2 linked regions of the Homo sapiens genome follow. The protein of the gene in region 2 purifies or fractionates together with the protein of the main gene of each other region. This does not show direct contact. Each region holds a gene or a part of one and is shown on either strand. Other genes may lie near its edges. The genes, in order: POMP and ASPHD1.

Evidence for each region.
Region 1: the proteins of ASPHD1 (region 2) and POMP purify together in Homo sapiens (affinity purification with mass spectrometry; one large-scale study listed by BioGRID and IntAct). This does not show direct contact.

What each region holds. Positions count from the first base shown.
Region 1 is NC_000013.11:28,672,448-28,676,254, reverse strand, and holds part of POMP (proteasome maturation protein), read right to left. Parts: intron 1-3,807. UniProt on the Homo sapiens protein: Molecular chaperone essential for the assembly of standard proteasomes and immunoproteasomes. Degraded after completion of proteasome maturation. Mediates the association of 20S preproteasome with the endoplasmic reticulum.
Region 2 is NC_000016.10:29,898,809-29,902,715, reverse strand, and holds the start of ASPHD1 (aspartate beta-hydroxylase domain-containing protein 1), read right to left. Parts: upstream 2,229-3,907; 5' UTR 1,745-2,228; coding exon 796-1,744; intron 1-795. Other genes in the region: SEZ6L2 (seizure 6-like protein 2 isoform 5 precursor), read left to right, coding at 3,697-3,775.

The sequences.
Region 1 (3,807 bases), on a different chromosome or scaffold from region 2:
AGGTGGGCAGATCACGAGGTCAGGAGATCGAGACCATCCTGGCTAACACGGTGAAACCCCATCTCTAGTAAAAATACAAAAAATTAGCCAGGCGTGGTGGTGGGCGCCTGTAGTCCCAGCTACTCAGGAGTCTGAGGCAGGAGAATCGCTTGAACCCGGGAGGCAGAGCTTGCAGTGAGCAGAGATCGCGCCACTGCACTCCAGCCTGGGTGACAGAGAGAGAAAAAAAACAAAGCCATGTGATTCCCAGTGCGGAAGGTGGCCCTGTAGGGAGGTAACTGGACCACAGAGTTGAACACTTCATGGATGGTCTAGCACCACCCCCCGGATAAGTGAGTTCTTGTTCTGAGTTCACACAAGTTCTGGTTGTTTAAAGCTGTGTGGCAGCCCCCTCACTCTCTTGCTCCCTCTCGCCATATAATTCACTGGCCCCCCTTTGTCTTCTGCCACGATTGTAAGCTTCCTGAGGCCCTTACCAGAAGCAGATACCAGCACTATGCTTCCTGTACAGCCTGAGGAACCATATGCCAAAATAAATTTTCTTTACAAATTACCCAGCTTCAGGTATTTCTTTATAGCAATGCAAGAACAGACTAACAGTAGTTAACGGAGGACTCTCTGAGTAATATTTAGGTTGGGATCTGAAAAATGAGGGTAAACTATTTGAGGCAGAAAGGAACAGCTAATTCAGGTCCCTAAGGTGAAGCCCTAAGTTAACCGTATATTATGCAATAACAGTTCCCACAAGAAAAAAACTACCCCAAATACAGTGGTCTCACTGTAATCATCTACCAGGTGGATAAAAATCATCTACCTGGCCGGGCGTGATGGCTCACGCCTGTAATCCCAGCACTTTGGGAGGCTGAGGCGGGCAGACTACCGGAGGTCAGGAATTTGAGACCAGCTTGGCCAAGATGGTGAAACCCTGACTCTACTAAAATACAAAATTAGGCAGGTGTGGTCGTGGGCACCTGTAATCCCAGCTACCTGGGAGGCTGAGGCAGGAGAATTGCTTGAACCCAGGAGGTGGAGGTTACAGTAAGCCGAGATCGCGCCACTGCACTCCAGCCTGGGTGACAGAGCTAGACTCGTGTCTCCAAAACAAAAAAAATCTACCTAAACAGGTGATTTTTCCTAATAGCTACCTTAGAGAGACACAAGGAATGAATTTTAAAAGATGCCCACAAGATAGCAAGTGGCTTATTTTTTATTTTTTGAGATAGGGTTTCACTCTGTCGCCCAGGCTGGAGTACACTGGTGTGATCCCTGCTCACTGTGGCCTCAAATTCCTGGGCTCAAGTGATCCTCCTGCCTCAGCCTCCTGAGTACCTGGGACTACAGCTGCACACCACTATGCCCAATTAATTTAAAAAAAAAAAATTGTAGAGACAGGGTCTCATCTTACCCAGGCTGGTCTCAAACTCCTTGGCTAAACTGATCCTCCCACCTCTGCCTCCCAGAGTGCTGGGATTATGGATCTGAGCCACCACATCCAGCCAGCTAGTGACCTTTTTAAACATATAATTCCATCACATTACATCCTTACTTAAAACTGCTCAATGGCCTTTTTTTGCATTCTGAAGAAATTCTAAACTTCTTTTCATGGTCTGTAGGCCCTGATTCATCTGTTCCTTGCTGAGCTTTTTGATCTCAACCTTATTCTACTCTCTACTTTGCTCAAAACATGCCAGCCATATGGGCCTTCTTAAAGTGCTCTTATATATGCTGGGAGACAGTTCTCTATTGGTCTCTCCATTCTGCAAGCTGGGAGCAGAGACACTAAACTGCCTTTGTTCTAGGCTATCTTTCCAAAGCCGTTTCAGCCTCATAAGACAAAGCAGCACAGGACAGGCAGGTTTACTGCCAGTTATAAGGCTGAGGTGGCCTGAACATGGAGTTCCTCTCCTCTAACGTAACACACTCAATGTACAAGGCTTCACCTTACCCTCTTCTTAGCTGCCCCATAGGAAGTGGGGCTAAGGGAACCAAAAGAAATGCTGATACTCTGGCTACGCTATTGCTATGAATAAGAAACTGTCCTTTAGGAGTCTCTTGTCTTCTGCCAGCATCCATGAATTCATGGCAGGCTAACAAGTTAGCTTCAAAGTAGAGTAAGATCTCAAACCGTTCAGAGTTCTTCAGCTGTTCTCAGGTTACATACCCTGAACATACTCATCTCTTCTGTCTGAAATACTCTCCTTCTACTTCTAGGTCAATGATTTCATGTTTCTTTCAGAAATTCACTTCTGTGTTGTATTCCCAGAGGTATGTGCCCTCCCAACCCAAAAACATCCTTTTTATTCCTAGAATTATCAAATTGTATATTTGTGTTTATGTGTTTATCTCCCCCATTTGAAAGCACAGATATTTGTTTTGTTCACAGCTGTATATTCAGAGCCTAGCCCAGTGCCTGACACATATTTGACTGACTAGATAAATGCTCCTAAGTCCCTCTCCCTTTCTTTAAACAGAATTACAGAAGCAGATTTTTAAATGAATGCTTTTGTAACTAAAGACCTGAACTATCACCTTAGTAGTTTTAAATAAGGTCTAAGTTCAATGTAAAAGCTTAAGAATCCCAGCTTTTCCTGCATCCAAAATGCTCCCTCAGGGAAGATTCTGAAAGGAGGCTCACTAGACTTCTGTTATGTCCACAGCATTTCCTTACCGGACATCAGCAGCCAAGCAAAACTAATAAAACTTAATCCTGTTGGATATTTTTGTTTCTCCTGCACTGCTGGGGCATAACGAGCAGAGGCAGCATTGGACAGGATTGTATTTGTTTATCTTCCTCAGGACCAGAAAAAATAGAGGATGCTGCATATATTGTTCTTACTTAAATTCATTTACAATTATTCAGGGAATTTTATTAAAAATAACAGATTCGGCCGGGTGCAGTGGCTCACGCCTCTAATCCCAGCACTTTGGGAGGCCGAGGCGGGCAGATCACAAGGTCAGGAGTTCGAGACCAGCCTGGCCAACATGGTAAAACCCCGTCTCTACTAAAAATACAAAAATTAGCCGGGTGTGGTGATGGGTGCCTGTAATCCCAGCTACTTGGGAGGCTGAGGCAGGAGAATTGCTTGAACTCAGGAGGCGGAAGTTGCAGTGAGCTGAGATTGCGCCACTGCACTCCAGCCCGGGTAACAGCACAAGACTCCATCTTGAAAAAAAAAAAAAAAAAGACAGATTCCTCTTTCCTATTTATCACCTGTAGAAGTACAAAAATTACTTTTTTGGGGAGCTACTTTTTAAAGAAAGATTTATTTTCCAGTTGTTTAAAATGCTAGTCAAAAAACCCCAAAATCAAACTAAACACACAAAAACAACACCAGTCACATCCCAACAATGTGAATTCTGAAATAATTATCATTGTTTAAGTCACCCTAGGAATATCAGACTGACATATTACACTTGAAGCTCAGGACATGAAGTGAATAACCACCATTACTAGACTGAAATGACTATGTACTCTTAGAATTTCATAAATAATTTTCACTTTTTTTCTTTTTATATTTTTAGTAGAGACAGGGTTTCACCATGTTGGCCAGGCTTGTCTCAAACACCTGACCTGAGGTGATCTGCCCACCCCGGCCTCCCAAAGTGCTGGGATTACACGTGAGCCACCGCACCCAGCCAATCTTCACTTTTAAAAACAGTTAAAGAACAGTTACTACCATTAAACTTTATCTTAATGCAATGAATAAAGTGAACCCAATCAGCTGTAAGTTCCATGAGGACAAGAATTTTGCCTATTCTTTTTGCAGCTGTTTGCCTTTTAAATTACAAGGGCTCCATAAAAAGGTG
Region 2 (3,907 bases):
GTGAAACCCTGTCTTCACTAAAAATACAAAATAAAAAAAAATTAGCCAGGTGTAGTGGCAGGTGCCTGTAGTCCCAGATACTCGGGAGGCTGAGGCAGGAGAATGGTATGAACCCGGGAGGTGGAGCTTGCAGTGAGCCAAGATCGTGCCACTGCACTCTCGCCTGGGCGACAGAGCGAGACTCCTCAAAAAAGAAAAAAGTGTAGGCTTCAGGATCAGAGAGACTAGAGCACTTAACTAGAATGTTCTAGACTGTTGAAAGCTTTCTTTTTTAAATTTCAGCTTGTGTTTATGAGTACTTTCTTGTCACCCAGGCTGGAGTGCAGTAGCACAATCTCAGCTCACTGCAGCCTCAAACTGCTGAGCTCCAGTGAACCTCCCACCTCACCCTCTCCAGTAGCTGGGACCATAGGCATGGGCCACCGCGCCCGGCTAATTGTTTTATTATTTGTAGAGACAAGGTCTCACTGTGTTGTCCAGGCTTTTTATGAGTACTATTTAGGGCAAGTAATACTGATAGTGCTATAAATATTTCTTTTAAATACGTAGAACAAAAGGTCGGGGGGAGAGCCAAGGTGAAGAAACGCAGTACAGATGGGAATGACCACGGCAAAGCTTATGAAGGTGGTGTGCAGATAACCGAGGCTGAGGAAATGCTGCTGTGGGTGGCAACAGGGAGCCATGGAAGAAGAGAGGCACAATGAGAACCAGACAGCAGACGGCTCTGGCGGAGAGAAGGGTCTGGGGGGGAAATCATCGAGGCAAGGAGGTTGTCAGTAGGCGGCAGCTACTTACCCAGATGGCATCTGACCCGGGCATTGGTGGGCCCACAGCGGCCCTCGAGCCGGGCCCCAGGCAGGAGAACGGAAAAGCCGGCATTGCCGAAGGTGTTGGCACTCATAAAGCTTCGAAGCCCCCTCAGTGCCCGATAGGCCCCCGGGCACCGGCGGCAGTTGCTGGGTTGGCACCGGCCTGCTTGGTACAGCAGGAGCTGGTAGCACCCGGGGGCCAGAGGTGGGGACCAGCCCCGAGGCGGAGGGGTAGTCCCTGAGAAGTCCCAGCTCACAGCCCCGAAGTCCCGCAAAATGGCAGGGAAGCTGCTCTCCAGGAGCTCCACGTCGTGCCGCTGGGCGTCCCGCGGCACAAAGGGGGCTGAAGGCAGGTCTGGTAGGAAAAGCAGGCCTGGGCGCTGAATACCTAGGACCCCTGGCCCTCTCCCAGGGCCTGGGCCACCCTGAGCTGCCCGCCTCACTCTACCCATCCCAGCCCAGGAGTAGCGCCTTGCGTAGGCCCGAAGCCGCCGGCTCACTAGGCCTTCCGTCCTAGGTCCTTCCCCGGGATCCCCAGGACCCCCTGGGCTTGGCCCGCCGGCCTCCGAGCATCCCACAGGCCCACCACGAACACCCCCAGCTCGGCTCCCAGCCCCTAGGGCCTGCATGTCTTGGGAGCCCAGGCGGTAGCAGTACCAGAGGAACAGGGAAGTGAGGGCCCCGAAGAGCAAGGTGAGGGCCGAGGAGGCCAGGGGTAGTGGCCACGGGAGCATGATCAGGGAGGCCCTGGCCAAGAGGCCTGGGGCGTCCTCCGGACCCCAGTTCCCCTGTCCCCCCAGCTCCCCACCTGTCCCTTCCATGGCTGCCCCCTGGCTCCCCGCTGGACTGTTTCCCTTCCACATTCCACTCTGGGCTGTCTCTCTCTCCTTCCGCGGTCCTCTCTCCACGCTGAAGCTCCCTCTCCCCTCCTTCATGCACCTCCAACCCTCCTCTCTCCTTTCTCTCCCCTTTCTCTCTCCTTCTACCTCTTCTTCCTCCTCTCCCTCTGTCGCCTCCTCACCCTCTTCTTTCTCCTTCCAGCAGCCTCCTCTCTCTCGCTCTGCTTCTCTCTCCCACCTCAATCTCCCCCTTTCCTCCCCACCCCCGCTTTTCGCTCGCTCTCTCTCCCCGCTTCCTCCTAGCTCCCCTGGGCAGCGGTTCCTACCCTGCCTGGACCTGCAGTCCCGGGAACCCGCAGCCTGTCTTCCTCCGCGGCAGCTTCTTTCTCTCCGGCCTCACTGCTCTCTCCTTGCCCTCGCTCCTCACTAGCCCCGACCCTGCGGTCCTGCCTGGCTCTCGCTCCCTCTCTCCTACTCGCTCCTTCCTGGGCTCCCACTCACCCTGACGTCACTCCTTCCCGGAGCCCTCTCAGCTCAGCCACCCCCGAACCCTCCCAGTGGCACAGCAAATCAGCCGGGTGCCGGGGGAGGGGGGAGAGTTGTCGCTGGAGGTGCCTCCCCACCCCCCCCGCCCGGAAAGGGCGCCACGTGGGGCGCAGGGGCCACGGTGCCAGCCTCCAGCCGTCCCGCAATGCGAAAGAAGGGGCGGGTCGTATCGGGCGGGGCCTGAGGGGCGGGGCCTGAGGGGCGGGGCGAGCGCGGACTGACGGCTGGGCAGGCGCCCGGGACTGCGGGCAAGGATGCTGAGGCCAGTCCGTCGGGCGGCTGGTCCGTCGGTCGGTCGGCCTGTGACTCCCGCTGGCCCTAGGCAGCCCGGGAGCCCGCGAGCCTGGCAAACACCGAAAGCGGCCTCAGCCAATCGCGGGCGGCGTCGGGCCGGGCCCGCCCCGGCGGGGCGAGGGGAGCTGTCCGCGCGCCGCTGGTGCTGAAAAGGGCGCTCCGGAGGGAAAATCAGAGCCGAGGCCGCCTGTTAGCTGGCCGGGGTCAGGGTTTATGGAAGAGGAGGGGTCTGTCTCTCCTCCCCAAACCCCGGCCCGTCACCCACGAGACTTGTCACAATCGTGGAAGCTCTCTATTCCCCTGGAGGAGGGAGAGCCCATTCCACCCGAGCTACTGTAAAAGGGGAAGGGAAGCCCCTTGGGAGGTCTGAATGTGAACAGGGGGCATAATTGGGGGCCTAGCAGGCGCGAACCAAGCTATGCAGCCCCTCGGCACCCTGGGAAGAGGAGATTCAGATTCCAGATGTGCTGGAATGGCAGGCGGAGGGGGCTAATTACTGCTGGGACCAGAGAGTTTCCTTTGCCTCCCCTAGGGGCCGCGGGAGTGAGGATTACGGCCCTGGCTCGTATGATCCCTCCCTCCTCCATCTGCACTTCCTCCTCCTCCCTCCCCGTCAAATAAATCCCAGGCCCCTCCCTCCGCCCGTCCCCAGGATCTGACGTGGGCTCGATACCTTTCTCAGCTTCTCCCTCCCGCAGCTCCAGTGCCCGAGCTTCGGCTCTCCCAGTTCCCCAACCCACCCCTTCCCCTCCCCGACAAGCCCCGCTAGAGCCCAGTGGAGACCCCCTCGATCCTCGACCCCACCCTAAACCCCCAGAAGCTGTCTTTCTCCTCCCCAGTCCCCTAGCTTGGGGTCCAGACAGCCCAGTGGACCCAGGCGCCTGAGCAGGAGGGTAACCCAGGCCACCCGGCCCCTTCGGCCCTCTCGGCCCCACCCCCTGCAGCCGGAGCCGCGCCCCCTCCACCACAGAGCCGCGAGAAGAGGACAGAGGAGACTGAGCAAAGGGGGGTGGGCTCCAGGCGACCCCTAGCCCAATTCTGCCCCTCCATCCCAAGGGGCAGAGAAATTGTCTTTCTTTGCTGACTCCTACGAGGAAAAAAAAAAAAAAAAAAAAAACAATTAAAGGGAAAGATAAACGGAGACGGAGGAAAGGTGGCAGCCAGATTACTTAGAGAGGCACAGAGGAGAGAGATCGGGGTGAGTCGCCATGGGGACTCCCAGGGCCCAGCACCCGCCGCCTCCCCAGCTGCTGTTCCTAATTCTGCTGAGCTGTCCCTGGATCCAGGGTAAGGACATGAGACTGTGGGGGTGGGCCCCAGGAAGGCGTCCAGCGGGGTCCTCCACCCTCCTTTCTCTTAATATCCTGGGTCTTCCGAGCACATGGGGGAGGGGAGAGGCACAGCTGATGGGGAAGGGGC